Homo sapiens: one gene and its partner. The protein of the gene in region 1 interacts with the protein of each later gene in a biochemical or structural test. Each region holds a gene or a part of one and is shown on either strand. Other genes may lie near its edges.

Region 1 (7,037 bases):
AGAGGTTCTGCCAGGAGCCAAATGTGATTATACCATACAGGTGCAGCTAAGGTGAGTTCATCCTCCCTGCCTATCCTGGGTACCCACTGGGGGTAGGAGTGAAGTAGGGGTATGACAGATACCCTTACGAGATGTCCCTGCTCTGCCACTGCCTACTGCAGCCCTGCGACTCTTGTTGGATGCTGAGGGCTTCAGGCATCTATGACTGATTTTCTGGGGTTCCCTGTCTCTCTGCCAGATTCAAGTTAAGAAATTTCTTCCCACTCTTTCTTCCTTTCTCATCTCTTACCAGGTTCTGTCTCTGTGAGACCAGCTGCCCCCAGGAAGATTATTTTCCCCCCAACCTCTTTGTCAAGGTCAATGGGAAACTGTGCCCCCTGCCGGTAAATGCTCTCCCCTTCTTCTGTCAGTAATCCCTTACCGTTTCAGTTCATAAATATTAACTACAAACCTATTCTGAAAGAGACATGCCTAGCACAGTGCGTGGCACATAGTAGGTGCTCAGTTTACTGACTGAATCAATAGAATCTCGAGAGTATTAAGATAGGGCTGAACAAAGGTTTTGTGAGAACTCGGAGGAGGACATTAGTTCAACCCGAGATGTAAGAAAGACTTCTTTTTTGTTTTTTTTTTTTGAGACAGAGTCACTCGCTCTGTCACTCAGGCTGGAGTGCAATGGTGCAATCTCTGCTCACTGCAACCTCTGCCTCCCTAGTTCAAGCAATTCTCTTGCCTCAGCCTCCCAAGTAGCTGGGATTACAGGTGCCCACCACCCTGCCCGGCTAATTTTTGTATTTTTAGTAGAGACGGAGTTTTACCATGTTAGCTAGGCTGGTCTCGAACTCCTGACCTCAGGTGATCCACCCACCTCGGCTTCCTAAAGTGCTGGGATTACAGGCATGAGCCAGTACACCCGGCCAGAAAGACTTGACCCCAGAGCTGAGAGTTAGAAAAGGTGAGGCATCCTTATTCCTCCTCCTCAGGGACTCAGTGAGTTCCTTTTTTCTCAGTCAATAAATAAGCTCTCCTTTCTCCCCAGGAGTGAACCCCACACATAACCCTAGACAGTGCTCCAGTTTTGTGAGCCACTGAATGGGCCTCCATCCCCTTGGTCAGTGAGTGAGCGAGTTGGCCTTCCCTCCAGGGATTGAATAACCCGAGACAAGATATCTTTTGTTCAAAGAGCAGAGCCCCTTCCCAGAGCCACTTCTCCACTGACCAATCCCTCCCTTCTCCAGGGTTACCTTCCCCCAACCAAGAATGGGGCCGAGCCCAAGAGGCCCAGCCGCCCCATCAACATCACACCCCTGGCTCGACTCTCAGCCACTGTTCCCAACACCATTGTGGTCAATTGGTCATCTGAGTTCGGACGGGTGAGCACAGCTAAAGCAGGTGCCTGGAAAAGCCTGCTGAGGGTGAAGGGGAACCATCCAGTGTCCTGGGTTGGGGAAGCATTTTCCTCTTTATGAGTCTGTCTCTGGTCCTCATGGAACAAAAGTGGGCAGTGGTGGTATGAGAAGCAGAGGCTAATTGTCTACCCCCTGCCTCCAAGTAGAATTACTCCTTGTCTGTGTACCTGGTGAGGCAGTTGACTGCAGGAACCCTTCTACAAAAACTCAGAGCAAAGGGTATCCGGAACCCAGACCACTCGCGGGCACTGAGTGAGTAACATCTTTCCTCTCTTCCCCACCTGATCTGGATTCAAGTCTTCCTGGCCCTCCAGCCTTCATAATTAAACCCATACCTCTTTTTTGACAACTTACTCCCCTTCTCACATGAACCCCAACCCTCCCCCTCTACCCCTGACCAGTCTTCCAGTCTTTATAGTTGAAGTTGGACCACTCCCAGGCACCCTTGAATTTCCAATCATGTATCTGCTTTGCACCTCACAGTCCCTAACTCCAGCCCTGCTAGAATATGGGCTCTCCGGACTGGAAAGAATCTTAGGGGTCCTCTAATCTAACCCTCACATGATGCTTCAACTCCTCCAGATCATCTCTAACATAGCCAGAGTGTCACGCTATGTTTAAGCATCTTCAGGGATGGGAAAATCCCCCACACCCAGCCTTCATCATCCATATCCCAGACCACTTCCATGTGACGTCCCACTGGCCCCCAAAGACGCTCCACCCAGCAGCCTCTCAGCCAGAGCCATCTGTTCCTGGCCTTACCAACTCCTGGGCTTCCTCCAGCCTTGCTGACCCCATGGCTCTGGCCTCACTTTTGTTTCAGTCAAGGAGAAATTGACTGCTGACCCTGACAGTGAGGTGGCCACTACAAGTCTCCGGGTGTCACTCATGTGCCCGGTGGGTAAAAGGGGAGAAGGGAACAGGGTGGGAAGGGAGTTGGGTTTAGCCTGTGGACTTTGATGAGGGTTCCTAGGGATACTGGCGTGAAGTTTTCTGGGATGAAATCAGAGTAGGGCCTCTGACAAGAGAACTTGCTTCTCCTCAGCTAGGGAAGATGCGCCTGACTGTCCCTTGTCGTGCCCTCACCTGCGCCCACCTGCAGAGCTTCGATGCTGCCCTTTATCTACAGATGAATGAGAAGAAGCCTACATGGACATGTCCTGTGTGTGACAAGAAGGCTCCCTATGAATCTCTTATCATTGATGGGTAGGGCCATTTTGCTTCCTCTTACCTAGGACATCCACTAGAACCTCTTTTCTTGGTTATTTCTTTTTCTTTTTCTTTTCTTTTTTTTTTTTTTGAGATGGAATCTTACTCTGTTCCCCAGGCTGGAGTGCAGTGGCACAATCTTGGCTCACTGCAACCTCCACCTCCCGGGTTCAGGCGATACTCCTGCCTCAGCCTCCTGAGTAGCTGGGATTACAGGCACCCACCACCATGCCTGGCTAATTTTTGTATTTTTAGTAAAGACTGGGTTTCACCATGTTGGCCAGGCTGGTCTTGAACTCCTGACCTCAGGTGATCTGCCCACTTCAGCCTCCTAAAGTGCTGGGATTACAGGCATGAGACAACATGCCCAGCCTATAATATTTCTTTTTTCTTTTAGCCACCACCTCCTTCAGGGTTTTTAATTCATATGGCTTACTTCCCCTCACATGAACTGCAATTCTCACCTTATCTATCCCTTTTACCAGTCTGTGTGTGTGTGTGTGTATGTGCATGTGTGTGGAGGGGGAGGGCAACATTAAGGACTTAGTATATACAAGGCATCTTGCTGAGCACTTTGCATGAGTTATCTCATTGAATCCTCACAATAACCCTATGGACTCGGCTCCTACCTGTAATTCCAACACTGGAAGGCTGAGATGGGAAGATCATTTGAGGCTAGGAGTTTGAGACCAGCCTGGGCAACATAGTAGACCCTCTCTCTATAAAAAATTAAAAAAATTAGCCAGGCATGTTATAATAGCTCATGACTGTAGTCTTAGCTGCTCAGGAGGCTGAGGCAGGAGGATGGCTTGAACCCAGGAGTTTGAGGCTGCAGTGAGCTATGATTGCATTACTGCACCCCAGCCTGGGCAACAGATTGAGACCCTGTCTCAAAAAAAGAAATAATCCTATGATTGGCTAGTGACACTCACCCAGAAAAAAAAAAAGAAAAAAAAAAACCCTATGAGATAGGTAGTATCATTACACATGAGGAAACTGAGGCCGAGAGAGATTGAGCCTTGCTCAAGGTTATATTGTTAAGTGGCAGAGCCAGTGTACTGAACTGTCATAATATATCACCTATAACAACTACCTGACTTCCCACTGAGCATTGCAATAAGGTTCTTTTCAGGGCCTGGATGTTCTAATCTTTTGATCTTGCTAGTCTTAACCTCTTTTTGGAATCTACATTATGGTTCCTGTTCCCAGTGCTCCCCCACTTTTTGTTTGTTTGTTTGTTTTTGAGACAGGGTCTCGTTCTGTTGCCCAGACTGGAGTATAGTAGCACAATCATAGCTCACTGCAGCCTCGACCTCCTGGCCTCAAGTGATCCTCCCACCTTGGCCTCCCAAAGTGCTAGGATTGCAGGCATGAGCTACCATGCCTGGCCCCTAGTGCCTTTATTTATTTATTTTTACACAAGTGTTTAGAAAGCCAAAGACCCAGTGCCTTTTGGAGATGGTTTATGGACTTCTGTGTCTCTGCTCCTTTTGTTCCTTATACTACACGTAAGTGCTCAGATTTTTTTTTTTTTTTTTTTTGAGACGGTGTTTCACTCTGTCACCCAGGCTGGAGTGGTATGGCACAGTCTCGTGATCTCAGCTCATGCAACCTCTGCCTCCTGGGTTCAAGCAATTCTCCTGCCTCAGCCTCCTGAGTAGCTGGGATTACAGGCATGTGCCGCCACATCCGGCTAATTTTGTATTTTTGGTAGAGATGGGGTTTCACCATGTTGGCCAGGCTGGTCTCGAACTCCTGACCTCAGGTGATCCACCCACCTCAGTCTCTGAAAGTGTGATTATAGGCGTGAGCCACCACGCCGGCTTTTTTTTTTTTTTTTTTTTTGAGGCAGAGCCTTGCTCTGTTTCCCAGGGTGGAGAACAGTGGTGTGGTCTAGGCTCACTGCAACCTCTGCCTCCTGGGTTCAAGCGATTCTCGTGCCTCAGCCTCCTAAGTAGCTGGGATTATAGGCATGTGCCACCACACCTGGCTAATTTTTGTATTTTTAGTAGAGATGAGGTTTCACCATGTTGGCCAGGCTGGTCTTGAACTCCCAGCCTCAAGTGATTCACCTGCCTGTACCTCCCAAAGTGCTGGGATTAAAGGCGTGAGCCACTGCACCCAGCCTCAGATTGTATTTATTTTAAAACCTATTACTTACTTTGCAAAGCTCTTTTACATACCTTGTGTTATTTGATTCCAACAACTCAGAGCGGTCCAGTAGGATGGATAATGTTCTTATTTTACAGATGAGGAAACTGAGATACAGGAAGGTGAGTTACAGAACTCTGGCTACTGTTCTGCTCATCTCCCAGCCCCGTGAATTTTCATCTCTCTCTTCCCCCAGTTTATTTATGGAGATTCTTAGTTCCTGTTCAGATTGTGATGAGATCCAATTCATGGAAGATGGATCCTGGTGCCCAATGAAACCCAAGAAGGAGGCATCTGAGGTTTGCCCCCCGCCAGGGTATGGGCTGGATGGTGAGTGACCCCCTGTTCCCCAGCTAAGCTAAATCTTGGATGGCCTCTTCTCTGAGACGTAGTCTTCTTAATACCCACAGGCCTCCAGTACAGCCCAGTCCAGGGGGGAGATCCATCAGAGAATAAGAAGAAGGTCGAAGTTATTGACTTGACAATAGAAAGCTCATCAGATGAGGAGGATCTGCCCCCTACCAAGAAGCACTGTTCTGTCACCTCAGCTGCCATCCCGGCCCTACCTGGAAGCAAAGGGTATGAGAAAATAGGCTGAGTCTACAGCAAAACGGACAGGGGAAGAAGTCAGGATTGCTTTCTGATCATTGGACAAAGCCTGGGGCAAGAGAAATGTGGAGGGGACAGAGAGGGAACCTGGGGACCTGAGCTGGGTGAGGGCATCTGTGGTTTGCTGGCTGCCTCAGCTCCTCTCTACCCACAGAGTCCTGACATCTGGCCACCAGCCATCCTCGGTGCTAAGGAGCCCTGCTATGGGCACGTTGGGTGGGGATTTCCTGTCCAGTCTCCCACTACATGAGTACCCACCTGCCTTCCCACTGGGAGCCGACATCCAAGGTATGACATGGGTCATAAGATGGACCCTGCACTGCCACACCCTCCCCAGAGCTACATCAGAACCCCTGTTCCTTCTCAAAGCCTCCTGCTTCTCCTGCAAGGGGCCACAGTCCACAGTGCTTTGTCTTTTGGTGGTAAAGGGGTCAGATAGGAGGTTAATTTTGATTTTTCTTTTCCTGCCAGGTTTAGATTTATTTTCATTTCTTCAGACAGAGAGTCAGGTAAGTGGTTCTTTCTTCAGAAGGTCTCAGATCTCTGAAGCTTCCTTTCTAGACACTGATGGGGCCCCTCCCTCTCTTATGATCTCTGGGGATGTAAATCTGCTTTCCCGTGAGGGCAGTGGGGTGTAGGTATCTTATTATCTCCTCAGCCCCACTGGTAGTTCCTGAGATTCCTACTTAGGCCTCCTTCCTAGATCCCCTGTTACTTTTCTGCCCTGGCCTACTCACCCCTACCCCCGTGTGCACTTAGAGCACCATGCCTGCTCTAACCGGACATTCCACACATTTCAGACGCCCACAAAGCCAAGAACCTAACAAGTTGGAGGAGCTCTCTCAAGGCAGGGAAAGGGGAAGGGTGTAGGGAAGTAGGGGAAAGAGGGAGAGGCTCTCCTGCTTCTCAAGAGAATACCTTCGGATCCACAGGGGTTGATTGCTCTCATACGGCATTTCTGAGATGAGTGACTGGGAGGTGGGGAAGTCGGGATTGAGATCTTAAACTATGCCCTTGATTCTTCCTAGCACTATGGCCCCTCTGTCATCACCTCACTAGATGAACAGGATGCCCTTGGCCACTTCTTCCAGTACCGAGGGACCCCTTCTCACTTTCTGGGCCCACTGGCCCCCACGCTGGGGAGCTCCCACTGCAGCGCCACTCCGGCGCCCCCTCCTGGCCGTGTCAGCAGCATTGTGGCCCCTGGGGGGGCCTTGAGGGAGGGGCATGGAGGACCCCTGCCCTCAGGTCCCTCTTTGACTGGCTGTCGGTCAGACATCATTTCCCTGGACTGAGTTCCCTGGATTATGGAAACTTCGCTGTCCCCCAACACTGAGCAAGTATGCTGTGGAGTCCCAACCCCAGCTACTCTGATCCCTCTGGGGGCTCTGGCCAAGGGCCAGACAGACCTTCACAGATGCCTACTTTTGGCCTCATCTCTGCCTGACAAGGCCAGCACCCAAAGGGTTAATATTTAACCTCTTTTTAAGGACACTGGGGTCTGTTTCTGGAAATGTTCTTTAGATGGTGGCACATTCCTTTGGGTATGTTAACCTAGGCAGTGGGAGGCAAATGGGATGGTATGTGAGCTAGGAGAAGGGCTGAACCCTCAGCCTTGACTATGTCTAGAGCCTCTTGGGGAAGGGGCACCTCTCTTGA
Region 2 (3,367 bases), on another chromosome or scaffold:
CAATTATTTTGTAGGTGGGGTACACTCAGCTTAAAGTAATGCATTTTTTTTTCCCGTAAAGGCAGAATCCATCTTGTTGCAGATAGCTATCTAAATAATCTCATATCCTCTTTTGCAAAGACTACAGAGAATAGGCTATGACAATCTTGTTCAAGCCTTTCCATTTTTTTCCCTGATAACTAAGTAATTTCTTTGAACATACCAAGAAGTATGTAAAAAGTCCATGGCCTTATTCATCCACAAAGTGGCATCCTAGGCCCAGCCTTATCCCTAGCAGTTGTCCCAGTGCTGCTAGGTTGCTTATCTTGTTTATCTGGAATCACTGTGGAGTGAAATTTTCCACATCATCCAGAATTGCCTTATTTAAGAAGTAAAACGTTTTAATTTTTAGCCTTTTTTTGGTGGAGTTATTTAATATGTATATCAGAGGATATACTAGATGGTAACATTTCTTTCTGTGCTTGGCTATCTTTGTGGACTTCAGGGGCTTCTAAAACAGACAGGACTGTGTTGCCTTTACTAAATGGTCTGAGACAGCTATGGTTTTGAATTTTTAGTTTTTTTTTTTTAACCCACTTCCCCTCCTGGTCTCTTCCCTCTCTGATAATTACCATTCATATGTGAGTGTTAGTGTGCCTCCTTTTAGCATTTTCTTCTTCTCTTTCTGATTCTTCATTTCTGACTGCCTAGGCAAGGAAACCAGATAACCAAACTTACTAGAACGTTCTTTAAAACACAAGTACAAACTCTGGGACAGGACCCAAGACACTTTCCTGTGAAGTGCTGAAAAAGACCTCATTGTATTGGCATTTGATATCAGTTTGATGTAGCTTAGAGTGCTTCCTGATTCTTGCTGAGTTTCAGGTAGTTGAGATAGAGAGAAGTGAGTCATATTCATATTTTCCCCCTTAGAATAATATTTTGAAAGGTTTCATTGCTTCCACTTGAATGCTGCTCTTACAAAAACTGGGGTTACAAGGGTTACTAAATTAGCATCAGTAGCCAGAGGCAATACCGTTGTCTGGAGGACACCAGCAAACAACACACAACAAAGCAAAACAAACCTTGGGAAACTAAGGCCATTTGTTTTGTTTTGGTGTCCCCTTTGAAGCCCTGCCTTCTGGCCTTACTCCTGTACAGATATTTTTGACCTATAGGTGCCTTTATGAGAATTGAGGGTCTGACATCCTGCCCCAAGGAGTAGCTAAAGTAATTGCTAGTGTTTTCAGGGATTTTAACATCAGACTGGAATGAATGAATGAAACTTTTTGTCCTTTTTTTTTCTGTTTTTTTTTTTCTAATGTAGTAAGGACTAAGGAAAACCTTTGGTGAAGACAATCATTTCTCTCTGTTGATGTGGATACTTTTCACACCGTTTATTTAAATGCTTTCTCAATAGGTCCAGAGCCAGTGTTCTTGTTCAACCTGAAAGTAATGGCTCTGGGTTGGGCCAGACAGTTGCACTCTCTAGTTTGCCCTCTGCCACAAATTTGATGTGTGACCTTTGGGCAAGTCATTTATCTTCTCTGGGCCTTAGTTGCCTCATCTGTAAAATGAGGGAGTTGGAGTAGATTAATTATTCCAGCTCTGAAATTCTAAGTGACCTTGGCTACCTTGCAGCAGTTTTGGATTTCTTCCTTATCTTTGTTCTGCTGTTTGAGGGGGCTTTTTACTTATTTCCATGTTATTCAAAGGAGACTAGGCTTGATATTTTATTACTGTTCTTTTATGGACAAAAGGTTACATAGTATGCCCTTAAGACTTAATTTTAACCAAAGGCCTAGCACCACCTTAGGGGCTGCAATAAACACTTAACGCGCGTGCGCACGCGCGCGCGCACACACACACACACACACACACACACACACAGGTCAGAGTTTAAGGCTTTCGAGTCATGACATTCTAGCTTTTGAATTGCGTGCACACACACACGCACGCACACACTCTGGTCAGAGTTTATTAAGGCTTTCGAGTCATGACATTATAGCTTTTGAGTTGGTGTGTGTGACACCACCCTCCTAAGTGGTGTGTGCTTGTAATTTTTTTTTTCAGTGAAAATGGATTGAAAACCTGTTGTTAATGCTTAGTGATATTATGCTCAAAACAAGGAAATTCCCTTGAACCGTGTCAATTAAACTGGTTTATATGACTCAAGAAAACAATACCAGTAGATGATTATTAACTTTATTCTTGGCTCTTTTTAGGTCCATTTTGATTAAGTGACTTTTGGCTGGATCATTCAGAGCTCTCTTCTAGCCTACCCTTGGATGAGTACAATTAATGAAATTCATATTTTCAAGGACCTGGGAGCCTTCCTTGGGGCTGGGTTGAGGGTGGGGGGTTGGGGAGTCCTGGTAGAGGCCAGCTTTGTGGTAGCTGGAGAGGAAGGGATGAAACCAGCTGCTGTTGCAAAGGCTGCTTGTCATTGATAGAAGGACTCACGGGCTTGGATTGATTAAGACTAAACATGGAGTTGGCAAACTTTCTTCAAGTATTGAGTTCTGTTCAATGCATTGGACATGTGATTTAAGGGAAAAGTGTGAATGCTTATAGATGATGAAAACCTGGTGGGCTGCAGAGCCCAGTTTAGAAGAAGTGAGTTGGGGGTTGGGGACAGATTTGGTGGTGGTATTTCCCAACTGTTTCCTCCCCTAAATTCAGAGGAATGCAGCTATGCCAGAAGCCAGAGAAGAGCCACTCGTAGCTTCTGCTTTGGGGACAACTGGTCAGTTGAAAGTCCCAGGAGTTCCTTTGTGGCTTTCTGTATACTTTTGCCTGGTTAAAGTCTGTGGCTAAAAAATAGTCGAACCTTTCTTGAGAACTCTGTAACAAAGTATGTTTTTGATTAAAAGAGAAAGCCAACTAAATCATTATGTGCTCATTCTTTTTCTTAAGCTTGTGGATGTCTTGGATCTGGAAAGGGTTTCTGATCACTTAGAGAATTTTCAAACTTTAGGTCAACATTTTCCTTTATTGCCTTGTGGCCACTGAAATGGGAAATGTGACATTTAAAATATGACCCTGGAATAACAGTCCCCATTCTTCTCTCATTTTTAAAAGGAGAAGGTGAAGTGATGGTGATCAGAGAGATGGGTGCTAGGGAATTATAAGAACCAGGATGCTTAAAGGAGAGGTAAAATTGGAAATTGGAGACCCTTTCATTGCCCAGCTAAGGGATAAGGAAAGCTGTTTCTCTCCCATCTGCCTTCTCTGTGAAATAGGGGTCAATGGGAGGGGAGTGGTGGTCAGGTAAGTAGATTCCGTGGCAATGGCTTGTATATAACAAGACCACATCAGCATTTTATTTCTAAGCTTGCTGACATGAGTTTCAGAGAGTTTATCGGGCTGAGAGATTTCTTCTCACCTG

Evidence for each region. The genes of interacting proteins can lie anywhere in the genome.
Region 2: the proteins of PIAS3 (region 1) and SMAD4 form a complex in vitro, tested with the Homo sapiens proteins (one study listed by BioGRID).

The regions. Positions count from the first base shown.
Region 1 is NC_000001.11:145,849,082-145,856,118, reverse strand, and holds part of PIAS3 (E3 SUMO-protein ligase PIAS3), read left to right. Parts: coding exon 1-51; intron 52-292; coding exon 293-383; intron 384-1,238; coding exon 1,239-1,373; intron 1,374-1,555; coding exon 1,556-1,661; intron 1,662-2,232; coding exon 2,233-2,306; intron 2,307-2,454; coding exon 2,455-2,615; intron 2,616-4,965; coding exon 4,966-5,099; intron 5,100-5,179; coding exon 5,180-5,348; intron 5,349-5,473; exon of another isoform or gene 5,474-5,532; coding exon 5,533-5,666; intron 5,667-5,849; coding exon 5,850-5,887; intron 5,888-6,406; coding exon 6,407-6,673; 3' UTR 6,674-7,037. UniProt on the Homo sapiens protein: Functions as an E3-type small ubiquitin-like modifier (SUMO) ligase, stabilizing the interaction between UBE2I and the substrate, and as a SUMO-tethering factor.
Region 2 is NC_000018.10:51,082,176-51,085,542, forward strand, and holds the end of SMAD4 (mothers against decapentaplegic homolog 4), read left to right. Parts: 3' UTR 1-2,867; downstream 2,868-3,367. UniProt on the Homo sapiens protein: In muscle physiology, plays a central role in the balance between atrophy and hypertrophy. When recruited by MSTN, promotes atrophy response via phosphorylated SMAD2/4.